Linked DNA regions of Homo sapiens: region 2 is linked to region 1. A link means that fine-mapping ties the variant in region 1 to the expression of a gene that starts in the linked region. Tissue or cell type: whole blood. Region 1 holds a variant in brackets; the other region holds the start of a gene. All regions are shown on one strand. Distances are between the middles of the regions.

Evidence for each region. PIP is the estimated chance that this variant, and not a neighbour inherited with it, causes the effect.
Region 2: ERC1 starts here. The variant in region 1 is fine-mapped to the expression of ERC1 in whole blood (INTERVAL, PIP above 0.99).

What each region holds. Positions count from the first base shown.
Region 1 is chr12:1,492,370-1,498,117 of GRCh38, forward strand. It overlaps ERC1 (ELKS/RAB6-interacting/CAST family member 1), which reads left to right. Exons shown (of 19, transcript NM_178040.4): 19 at 1-3,562. Among named protein-coding and RNA genes, the nearest start is that of LINC00942, 5.2 kb to the right of the region's middle. The variant C/T (reference allele first, on the strand shown) is at 2,532.
Region 2 is chr12:989,070-994,817 of GRCh38, forward strand. It overlaps ERC1 (ELKS/RAB6-interacting/CAST family member 1), which reads left to right and starts at 2,154. Exons shown (of 19, transcript NM_178040.4): 1 at 2,154-2,253. It also overlaps a transcript of RAD52 not described here. RefSeq lists enhancers at 985-1,547, 2,109-2,670 and silencers at 1,369-1,418, 1,829-1,938, 1,959-2,468, 2,674-2,968.

The DNA of each region.
Region 1 (5,748 bases):
ACTGCGGTGTGATAACAGCCTTCACGGGGCCACGGTGGAACCAAGACAGCAGGCGAGGCCATGCCTAAACAAGTGGTCTGGCACGGGCACTGGCCAGCTGCTCTCTCCAAGCAGGTGGCCCAGATCCCACCCACGTGGACTTTCTCATCAGGTGCAGCGCCTGCCACTCTCAGCCACTGGGTGTGTCACTCTCCTCTTCATCTCAGCATTCTCCATCACTTCCCCTCCAGAAAAACGGATGGAAGGAAGCCCTCTGTGACACTGCTTCTGAGAAGAAGCATTTCCGGGACCGATATCATCTGTCTGGTCTCTGTGAACAGCAAGGAATCTTCTTGACCGTTCTTGGGCACTGGAGGCTGGCTAGGAGTTCAGTAATAAACGTGGCCTTCGTGCTGTAGGGCAGAGTGGATGCAGTTTGTAGCTTTCAGAGTGTCTCATTGAGTCTAGATCATTGAACCAACACTTAACCAAATGTCCCACTCCCATCACACTAGGACTTGTCATTCCATGCCCCTCTCCTAGTGGTCATGGTTTCATATGGGCATACAACTGCTACTGAAGTTATATAGCCTTGAAAACTCAGTGCAGGTTGCCCTTAATTTTCCCCAAACCCCTCCATCGGCAAGTCTAGTTGCCCTTTAGCACCTAAAGATCTGCACCCCAAACCAATGTCACCATAAAGAGGGCACGAAGAAGAGTGGGTGTGATCCCAACGGGGTTTTGTAACTGAAGAAGCCCAGTGTGAGCTTCTCATCTTTTCATATACCTCTAACCCCCGGTACTCATTGAATCATTGATGAGGTATCTCAATTGAGATTTGCAAGGACTTTGATACCATTTGAAATGGAAAAATTTTGAACGGGCTTTAACATGTTTAAGAAATATGGATGGGGCCGGCCACAGTGGCTCACGCCTGTAATCCCAGAACTCTGGAAGGCTGAGGCAGGCGGATCACCTGAGATCAGGAGTTCGAGGCCAGCCTGGCCAAGATGGCAAAAACCCCGACTCTACTAAAAATACAAAATTAGCCAGGCGTGGTGGCGTACGCCTGTAATCCCAGCTACTCAGGAGGCAGGAGAATCGCTTGAGCCTGGGAGGCAGAGGCTGCGGTGAGCCGAGATCGTGTCACTGCACTCCAGCCTGGGTGACAGAGACTCCATTTAAAAAAAAAAAAAAAAAATATATATATATATATATATATATATATATGGATGGGAATCACCAAATTCATCTCAGCTCTAACCTTTTAACCTTTGTCCTTGCACTTTACAATCTAAAGATCTACCTGTGGCTCTCAGACTTCCTCACACTTGGGTTTTAGAAATAACTTGTAAAGCAGACTGGACCCAAGGCCGCCTTCAGTGTCAAGAAGGGCATTGTGACTTGCCCCTCAATTTCTGTCCATTGAAGTCTGGTTTTCCATGAGGAACTTGCGGGCTCACCCACCCCCAGAGTGAGAGAAGAGGAAGGCGAAGTCATCACAGACACGGTCTTAGCCACCTGCTGAACTAATCCCTCCGCTATTGAGGGTCAGGGTTGTGAGGCAACCATCATGTGTCACCCCAAAATATAAATGTTTCTGAGCCGCCCATCCACTGGCATTTGGATTTGCTGCCAGAGTCCTGTTCCTCCCAGAACCATCCCGCCCTCCTGTTGACCATGTTACTTGAGTGTAGGCCCGGTGTCAAGACCCTCAGAGTCTTTGAGGAAAGAGCCAAGCAGAGAAGACCGCTGCGTGGAGTGTGACACCACATGGCATTTCTCAAGCCCAGCGGACCCTGTGTCAGCAAATACCAGTAATTTAACATCTGCTCCTGGCCTCCTCTTCACCTGCCTGGGTTCGGAACTGAGGAGGAAGGATGAGAAGAGACTGCAATGCAGCAGGCACCCTCTGCAGAGTGAGGCCGCCCGTCCATCACTGCCAGCCCTGGGCTGCTCAGGAGGGGACGTGAACCACTCAAAGGAATGTCTTAAAGAGGATCTGGAGTTTCCCCCATGCAAATTAGGGAAGAATTAGGCAAGAAAAGACATACATTACAGGGAAATCCTTCTGAACAAAATGGCTGTCTTCACCTACTCTTCTTGCAAGAAAAGACATACATTACAGGGAAATCCTTCTGAACAAAATGGCTATCTTCACCTACTCTTCAGCAAAAACCGTCTCCAGACTTTTTAGTGTCAAAAATGTAACCAACTGTCTCCTGATTTTTTCCAATGTGTTTGGCAAGTGCTGTGGCCCTGTTGTAGGTACTTCTCCTGACTCTTGGGGGAGAAGTGGTTTTAGGGATTGATTTGGGGGAGCGGGTTTTTGTCCCATCCCACCTCCTCTCTTCTTTCTCTGCTTGTCGATATTGTCTGTGTGATTCAGAGAATTGGGGCAGTTACATTGTGTCTGTTGTTGAGATTATTAAAAGATTAAAACGTAGTTGTAGAAATGAAAAATTAAACAGCTGTGTTTTAAAAATGCAAACCAATATCTTGTTAATAAAGGAATTCAAGCTATGGGGCAGCCACACTCCCCTCCTCCCAGG[C/T]TGGCATAGGTGGCCCTGGGCTGGCGGCTTAGGAAGCATGGAGCACACTTAGGGTAGTGCCTGCCTGGGCAAGAGACACCTGCCGAGCAAAAGGAACGAGAATCTGGGGCTCAGAGCCTCGCAGTTGTGCCAGGATTTTCCTATACATGTTCAGGACCTCTGGGTAGAGGTTTCACAGTTTGTGACCCCATAACCACCCTCACCCGACGTGGGTTCTAGCTCAGTGTGCCTAATACTGCATGGTAACCTGGGCTTGACCCTGAAGCCCCTGCCTGGCAGGCCACAGGACCTCTCCTGCCCACTTGGTGCTATCTCTTCCAGTGACCACCCAGCACGGGTGAGCACTGGCCAGCCTGGAGCCTGCAATCCAGGTGGAACAGACTGTCCTCCATGTCAGTTCCTTCTGGCTTCAGGCCCTCAATTATTTCCCTTTGAGCTTTTTTAGACCCTAGATCTCCTAGGCCCAGGCTCTCTCTTGACCCCAGAGAAGCCACTGTCAGGAAAGGAAGTGAACCCTACTGAAGCCAGAGAATTCACCCCGGCCAAAGCAGGCCCTCTGGGTCCAGCCCCTCATTCCACACCACGCCAGTATTGCATCCATCTACTGCAGCTACACATCCTGAGGGCAGCACCACCCACTCTGGCCTGCTGGCCCATCGCAGGACTAGCCCAGGCACCTGCCGGGCATTGCAGGATATCCAGTGGGGCCTGTGACTGCTCCCTGATGCGTCAGAAGAGAAGTGTTGCACTTTAGTGGAGGAGCTGAGGAGCACCTGCCCCCTTGTAGCTTGAGTTCCTTTTGGTAACAGTAGCAGCCTCCATGGTGGTGTCTGGGATGCACGTGCACCCGCTGCCTTCAGCTGTATGTGTGTGTTCCTGCTGGAGTTGTGTTACTGACAGGATAATGACATTACAAAGAAATTGTGTTATATTCAACTTTGCCTTGATAATTATTGTAAACACTTTGTTCATTTTTTCTTTTTTATTCACAAACTAAATCCACCAGGAAATTATAAAGTTATTTAAAAACCGTGCTGTGTCCTTCTTTGAGTGTCACCCAGCTGATCATCCAGGCAAGGTGTGTCCCCAAATGCTAGAAAAGATGGACAAGGTCTGCAGTGCCCAAGAGGCCAACTCCAATGGCAGGCAGCCCGAGGGCCAGGGGTCCCAGGATTTACGGTGGGTGTGGGAGTCATCACAGCCCTGACGGGCATGAGCCTCCTTTCCCTTCCCGCCTGATCTCCGGGTTTGCAGCTTTTAAAGTCAATTCCCGGTTCCCTTTTTCCTTCTTTCTACCCTCAGCCCCGGGCCAGGTTATCCGTATCAGGTCTCACTGTTCCAGAGCTTAGAGTAGGTGCCCAGCGCTGAGGGATGGTGCTGCTGTTGTACCAAGGTAGAAGAGCCAGAAGGGCGGCCACCAAGGGAGGGCTTTGCCCAGGACTGGGACTCAAGCTTCAGCAGGGCGCGTTCTGATGCACTGACTCTGGGGCGTGCAGGCTGGGTCAACAGAAAGTGTGTGTGCCAAGAGTAAAAGGAGCCGAGAAACCCTGTGCTTGGACGCGGCTGTCATTTCCAGCTTTGGGATTTGTCTTGGGCTTTATGCTCAATAAGAAATTATTCTGGAGGATTTCTTTTATGAGAATTACTTTTCTGCTTAGCCACACTTCTGTGTCTGCCCGAGAGAGGAATCAAGCCAGCTTGCTGCATTCCTTCCCTCTCCCGTGTAAATTCTGCCACACGCTGGGTGTTGGCTCTTGGGAATTGTAGCAAGAGAGTCCAAACTCGTTCTTCCCGGTCGGCCCTCCCAGTGCCCAGGTCCCACCCTGGCCTCGCTCTCTGCAGCCACAGCAGCTGTTGGGAAGCTCTGCCAGGGGAGACGTGCCCGGGAGACAGGGCGCTGTGGACACGGCTGCAGGGCTGAGGTTGCTTGTACTTTCATCATATGAAGCAGGAACAATTTTACTAGCCGAGCATGTATTATTCTGCACAATATAAAATCACAACCACAAGCAAATGTGTCCACAGAAAGCTGTCAGATTACACTGGTCAGCTGTTTCCAAGGTTTCCCATTCATCTTTTTTACTATTTATTCACCCTGCATTCTACCAGTGCCCAGTTGCAGGCAAGTGGACACCGACAATAGATTTAAAGAAAATATGTGAAAACTTTTAAGAATTCCATCCATTAATTTTTTTTCGGAACTGAGAGAAGATAACTAGTACTTTATTTTTGAGGTGGAATATCTCAGGCTGGCTCAAAAATGATTAGGAGCTACTTAGGGACTGGGTGCTGTAGCTGAAACCTTTAATCCCAACACTTTGGGAGGCCAAGGTGGGAAGATCACTTGAGGCGAGGAGTTCGAGACCAGCCTGGACAACATAGTGAGACCTCTCTCGTTACAATAAATTAAAAATTTAGCAGGGCATGGTGGCATGTGCCTATAGTCCCAGCTGCTTTGGAGGCTGAGGCAAGAGGATGACTTGAGCCCAGGAGATGGAGGCTGCAGTGAGCTGCAGTGATCACACCACTGCACTCCAGCCTAGAGGTGCAGAGAGAAACCCTGTCTCAAAAAAAATAAATAGGCTCTGGGGCTGGGGGGAAGCTGGTGTGAGGTTTGTGAGCCTTCCCAGGTGTCCTGGAAAGGGCCCAGACTCGCAGACTGCAGCCCTGGGCTGCCGCTTGACCTCCCAGCCTCTTCTTCACCTCTGAAAGAATGCCTCCTTCATCCCTGTCCCCAGCCTAGGTCATAATGAAGGTGCCGTAGGATAATCTTTTTCCTTTTTGAAATTTTCTTTACAGAGCATAAATTGCTTTCTTAACATCTGCGATTCACTTAAAAATAATCAAGCATGTCTGTCGGGGAGGAGCAAGGGCGTGGAGACAAAAGATGGGCCAGAGGTCGGTAATTATGAAGCTGGGGAACTGCGTGCATGGGGTTTGTAAGTCCATTCTCCTTATTCTTGTGTTTGAATGTTTCCTGAATCAGTTAAATATTCACATCCTTCAACTGTACTTGCCCATACAGGCCTCTTCCTCCGAAGATCCAAGCACTCTGCATTCACAAAGGGCCACCGTAGCGCTCCGTTCAGAATTTGTACTTCCCTGTGTTCTAGACTCCAGGCTACAAATAATAAAAGCTAGTGACATGTGGACCACCTGCCAGCTTCAGTTCTGAGCACTGCACAGGTTTGGTGTCGGTTCACCTTCACAGCAGTCC
Region 2 (5,748 bases), 500 kb before region 1:
ATTATCAGAGTGCTTAATTTTAGCCTGGATAAATGCCTAGATATTGTATCTGAGATATAGGGAGGGTTCTGCTCTTCCTTATATAGACCTTTATTTAGTCTCCCTGGTCTCAACTCTGCTTCTCACTCTTGCTCTGTCTGGTAGTTATCTCCAAATCTCCGTCTCCCTAAAGCACTTCTGGGCTGACAGGTCCCCTTCCTTTCTACAGCACCCTCTACACCCATTCTACATTATGCTTTTCTCCATTTTATTTTGTCAGACCACACTTACTTTTTGCATGTCAAATAAAAAAAAATTATCTTCCGATGTCCCCCTTCTCATTTTCTATTTTGTATCACTTTTATTTATCATCATTTTATGGGGTCTCAGGAAGAAGAGACAGTAAATACATGTGCTCGGTTAGCTAGCTTTAATCAAAAATCCTAAACGTAGGTTTTAAAAAAGATAACTGGAGCAGGGCAGGAAATAATATTTTTTGCCAGTGTGGTGGCAAAAAATAAAAAACAAAAATCTGAATCTGTGTTAGGACAGTATTTCCGTGTATAACATAGCGCTTAGCAACTTAATTCTCCAGATCCACATATTTTAAGGACATGATGTATCTCAGACACCTACTTCAAACCTCACTTTACAGTTAAGTAAGACCACAAGTAGAATGAATTGCCTGAGGCCACACAAGTAGACAGTGGGAGAATGAGAACAGAAATATCTATTGACTCCTAGTTGAATTTTCTCTTACCTTACCACACTGCTAGGGAGTAACAAGATGGGCAGATCACGAGTCAGATGAGAAAGGTCATGAAAAATAGTCAAAGGATGACTTTTCCTGGGTAAATAGCCGGATGTCCAAGAAATGAAAGGCTGGTCTGGCAGCAGCACATCGTCTAACAGTTGGTAGTCATATGTGGGAAGTACTGAAGGGGGAGATGACAGCAGGCCCAGAAACTGCAATGATCCAAGTGCATGTCGATCCTGGGAGGGAACAGTTAAGAGTCCGGGCAGGATGAAACAGTAGAAACTGGTGAGTGAATGAATGTGAAGGCTGAGGAGCGACTGCAATTTGTTAATGGGATTATGAGGCAGTATAAAGTGGTTAATTACGGTGGCGGAGGTAAGCAGGAGTAAAATGATGGCTTTTAACTCCTCTCAAGGACACCGAAAATTATTTTAATAAACACTGGAAGGCTGGGAATAAATATAATTCACACCATTCTTACTTTCTTGGTTTAGAGATAGCTTATCTACATCCTTAAATTAATGGCTGTAGCTACCCTCTGCATGGCTCCAAAAAAAAAACAAAAAACAAAAAACAAAACCAAAGCCGGCTGCGAGTCTGCACGAGAAAATCGGGTTGCACCAGGCCCCAGCCGCCCGCCGATTCGCTTAGCTGTCGGAGGCTAAATAAACAGCTCCCGAAGCAGCGTTTGGCACAGCGCAGGGTCGGAACGTGGACACTAATTTCCGCCCACGCTCCCCGCGTCCTGGCGGGATCACCACAGACACGACGTCCATTGCTGGGGTCCTCGGCGATGCCCGTGTGCGCAGCCCCGCGAGTCTCAGGTCAGAAGACCACTAATTTCGCGGCCGCGTTCCACGAAGCTAAGGGGCAAAAAACCAGCTTTCTTGGGACAAAGCGTCCCCCCAGCAGCCAGGGTCGATCCCGGCGCTGCTCCCGCGGCGCTTGGCTGCCCCGGGCGTAACGGGCCACGAGAAGTAGGGGGTGGGGCGCCGCTTAGGTTTGGGAAGACACGAAGCGGCTCCTCGGGCTTCCAGCGTCCACTTCCTACGGCAAGCAGGAGGAGACAAGCGCCACCCTGCGCTCGCGGAGCCGACCCCGGCTCTCCCCTCCCGTGGCCGCAGGGGTCGTGTGTGTGTGTGTGTGAGTGTGTGTGTGTGTGCAGGGACGCTCCGCGCCCATCACTCTGTTTCGGTGCTAATCGACCGCCGTGGCGCCGATTTCCCCCGCTTCCCAGTTCCTCACCCGCGTGCCCCGGAAGGCGCCCGGAGGCCCCCGGGCCGCCGCGTCACGCTCCCGGGAGGCTGAGGGAAAGGGAGGCAGCCGAGCCGGGAGCCCGGGGAGGCGCGCTGCGCCCCGCGGCGGGGCTGGGGGCGGGGCTAGGTGTCTCGCGCAGGGGGCGGGGCGCGGTGACGTCGCGGGCGCCTGGGCCGTGCTGTGGCGGCGGCGGCGGCGGTAGTGGCGGCGGCGGCGGTGCCTGGGCGGCAGCAGCAGCAGTAGCGGCAGCCCTGAGGACGGTGAGACGGCCGCGGCGGCGGCGACAGCGCGGAAGTCGCGCGGGACCCAGAGCTTCCCCCCTGTCGCTAGTGCTGAGGCTTTCGCCTTTCCTACCCAGCTTCTTGCTCACGGCCCGGGCTGGGCTGGGCAGGGCAACGCGCCCCCGGGGAGGGGCGGAGCTGTAGGTGAGGCTTCGCGACCCCCTCCCCCTCCTCGGCAGCCCGGGGGGTGGGGAGGGGCGGGCCCCACCCAGACCACCGGCGCCCACCCGCGGGCTCCACCCAGCCGGGCTCCGGGATCGGGCGGGAGCCGAGGCGGTAGATGTGGGGATCCTGGGGCGGGAGGTGGGGGAGTGGGGACTGGGGCTCTGGGCACTTGGGGAGCGGAGGGGGGGAGGCTTAGGACTAGTGAAGCCGCGGACGAGGTAGTGGGGAGACGGAGAAATTGGGGAGCCATGAGGTTGGGGTGCGGTCAGGGTGGATCTTTGGGTTAGGTGAGTGATGTAAAATGCTGAAGATGATTCTTTTCTTTTCGATGAAATGGTGAGATAAAAGATGAAGTGTATTTCAAAAGGACGATGAGCTGTGCATGTTGCCTTTGAGGCAGTTGCAGAACCTATTTTATTGCACTAGATCTCACGTTTCTACTTTAGGGTTCGATTCTTTTTCTTCTGGCGGGGTGGGTGGGGGGTCGGAGAGGGAAGAGAATCCCCTTACTTTGGCTCAGGTAAATTGTGAGCGTGGATGTATCTGAAAGTTTTACACCGAAGAAGAGGGAGATCTTCGGTTTAGACAACTTCGTTCCGGCAGCCACCATTTGGGTCGCATTACGCTTAGCTCCTTCAAGGTGGTGTCTTCCAGTTTTTTTTCCCCCCAATGCCTAAAAGATCTCTTTATACCACCCTTTTACAGGCTTTATCCTGGCCCCTTGAGAGAAGGCCCCAAACTCAGGTGGTTGCTTTGGAAGGCACATTGCTGAATAATAGTTGCAGGTGGTTGTGGTTGACTGCTTTGGGTGGATAAAGTGAACAATTGGAATAGTTCTGTTGGAGCTAATTATATGAAAAATGCTTAAATGTTTTAAAGTACAACCGTCTTTTATAGCGTGTTGCTTGCTCAGTACACCTTGACTTTTAGACATTTTGTGTTCAGTGCTAAATTGTTGAAATTTTATTTCTCATTTGCAGTTATGTTTCTTGCAGTCTTTATTAAAACACTTTAAAATGAAATGGAACTCTTTTTTTTTGGTAGGCTCCTCAATTTCTGAGAAATGTTCTTGGAGTCAAGTGCTTTAAAAACATTTTGGGGGCAGGTGTGTCACTTTGTATGGAAATATTAGAGTAAGCAGTGTTCAATGTTCTTCACATCACTCTTTCACAACTTAGCACTGTAAATCAGAATCTTCTTTTCTGGATTCTTGCTCCCTGTTAGATTACAGTATTCTCTGGCCCTACTTATCAGTTAGTGTCATTTAAGCTATTTCTTGTTCAGAAAACAGGTCCCATGATGGACATGTATTATGTAATGGATGGAAGTAGACATGGCTCTCAATAATTCATTTATGGAGGAAGAGAAGCTGTCAGAAAGTGGGATTTAAGCAGTGACTTTCCCAAGGCTTGCCTAGTTTATTTGGGAAAATAGCCAGAGAAGTGCTTTCTTGTAACCCAAAAGAGAAATATACAGATAAGAATTTCAGTAGTTGCAGATCGTTGCTTTTTCTAAGTGCCTACTTAATGAGCAGATTATTGTCTTCCAGCAAATACTTCTACTTTATAGAGAGGTATGGGAAACAGGACATAATAGGTATTAAGTGAGAAAGTGTGTGTTCCAATTTTTAATTATAAATAAAAGATTTAATTAACTGTATTCAGTTAATTCATTTGGTAAAGTGAACAGTTTTGACTTTGGATTAGTTAGAAGGAAAACAAAATTGACATATCTAGTTTTCGCTTTTAAATTATACATAGACTTAATTAATTGGGACAAATGTGAACTAAGATACTGGGTAAAACTTGTGTGTACTCCTAAAATGACATTTGCATGGCTGGTAGTAAGCTGTGATTCTTGTCCTTGTAGGAATGAAATCACATAATTTGGGGAAAGTCTTAAGGTAAAAGTAAGCTATTTCGTTTAGCATTTCTTGTGCCTGAAATTATGCCTACATTTTATTTTTCAAAAAATGTTGCTTGCTAGTCATTACTTGTGATATCCTTGTTGAGTCTACTGAGGTGTTTTTTTTCCTTCATTACCTGTGTCATAGATAAGTATGCCAGTCTGTTAATTCAACATTAATACTGCAAACTTAAAAGTGAAGGTTCTTGGCCGGGCGCCGTGGCTCATGCCTGTAATCCCAGCACTTTGGGAGGCCGAGGCAGGCGGATCATGAGGTCAGGAGTTCGAGACTAGCCTGGCCAACATGGTGAAACCCTGTCTCTACTAAAAATATAAGAATTAGCTGGGCGTGGTGGCACATGCCTGTAATCCCAGCTACTCAGGAGGCTGAGGCAGAAGAATTGCTTGAGCCTGGGAGGCAGAGGCTGCAGTGAGCCGAGATCATGCCACTGCACTCCAGTCTGGGCTACAGAGCGAGATTCCATCTCAAAAAATAAAAATAAAAATTGGCTGGGTGTGGTGGTGCACACCTGTAACCCCAGCTACTCAGGAAGCTGAGGCAGGAGAATTGCTTGAACCTGGGAGGTGGAGCTTGCAGTGAGCCGAGATTGCACCACTGCACTCCAGCCTGAGTCACGGCAAAACTCCGTCTCAAAAAAAAAAAAAAAAAAAAAAAAAAAAAGTGAAGGTTTTCATAGCAACAGCTGCTCGGTTTTACACTATGTTTACATTTAGAAGTATGAGAGTTGTTAAATGTGTATTTTACACATATTTCATCAGAAACATTAATGGAAAAAGATCAAGAAATGAAGTATTTTGGTTTAAGAATCAGTAGTACATTGATTATCAGTTTTCAGAGACATATAGTAAAATAAACTTAGCATACAGATTATGTGGAATATAATTTGTTTTTTTTTCTTATTTATTTTTTGTGTGTGGAATGTAATTGAAATCTGTTGCTCACCAAGTCTTTCAGTGTACTAGAGTTTGGGTTCTGGGGTCAGAGTGCCTGAGTTCAAATCCTGGCTTTGCCATGGTATGATGTAGGGCAAACTGCTTAATGTTGTTTATTTCCTAACCTTAACCTGTACCTTAATTTCTTCATCTGCAAAATAGAAATAATAACAGTAGTACCTAACCTCTTAAGCTGGTCAAATGAATTAATTCATGTATTTAGAACAGTTTGGGCACATAATTAGCTGGTTCACTAACATCATTTGAAGTTTAACTGTGTATACTATTTTTACTTAATAAGTATATATTAAATACATATTATGTACCACATATTCTAGATGCTGGTATCATAGTAGTGAACAGTTCTCCCAGCACTTTGGGAGGCCGAGGTGGGAGGATGGCTGGGCAACATAGCGAGACCATGTCTCTACAAAAATAAAAAAATTAGGC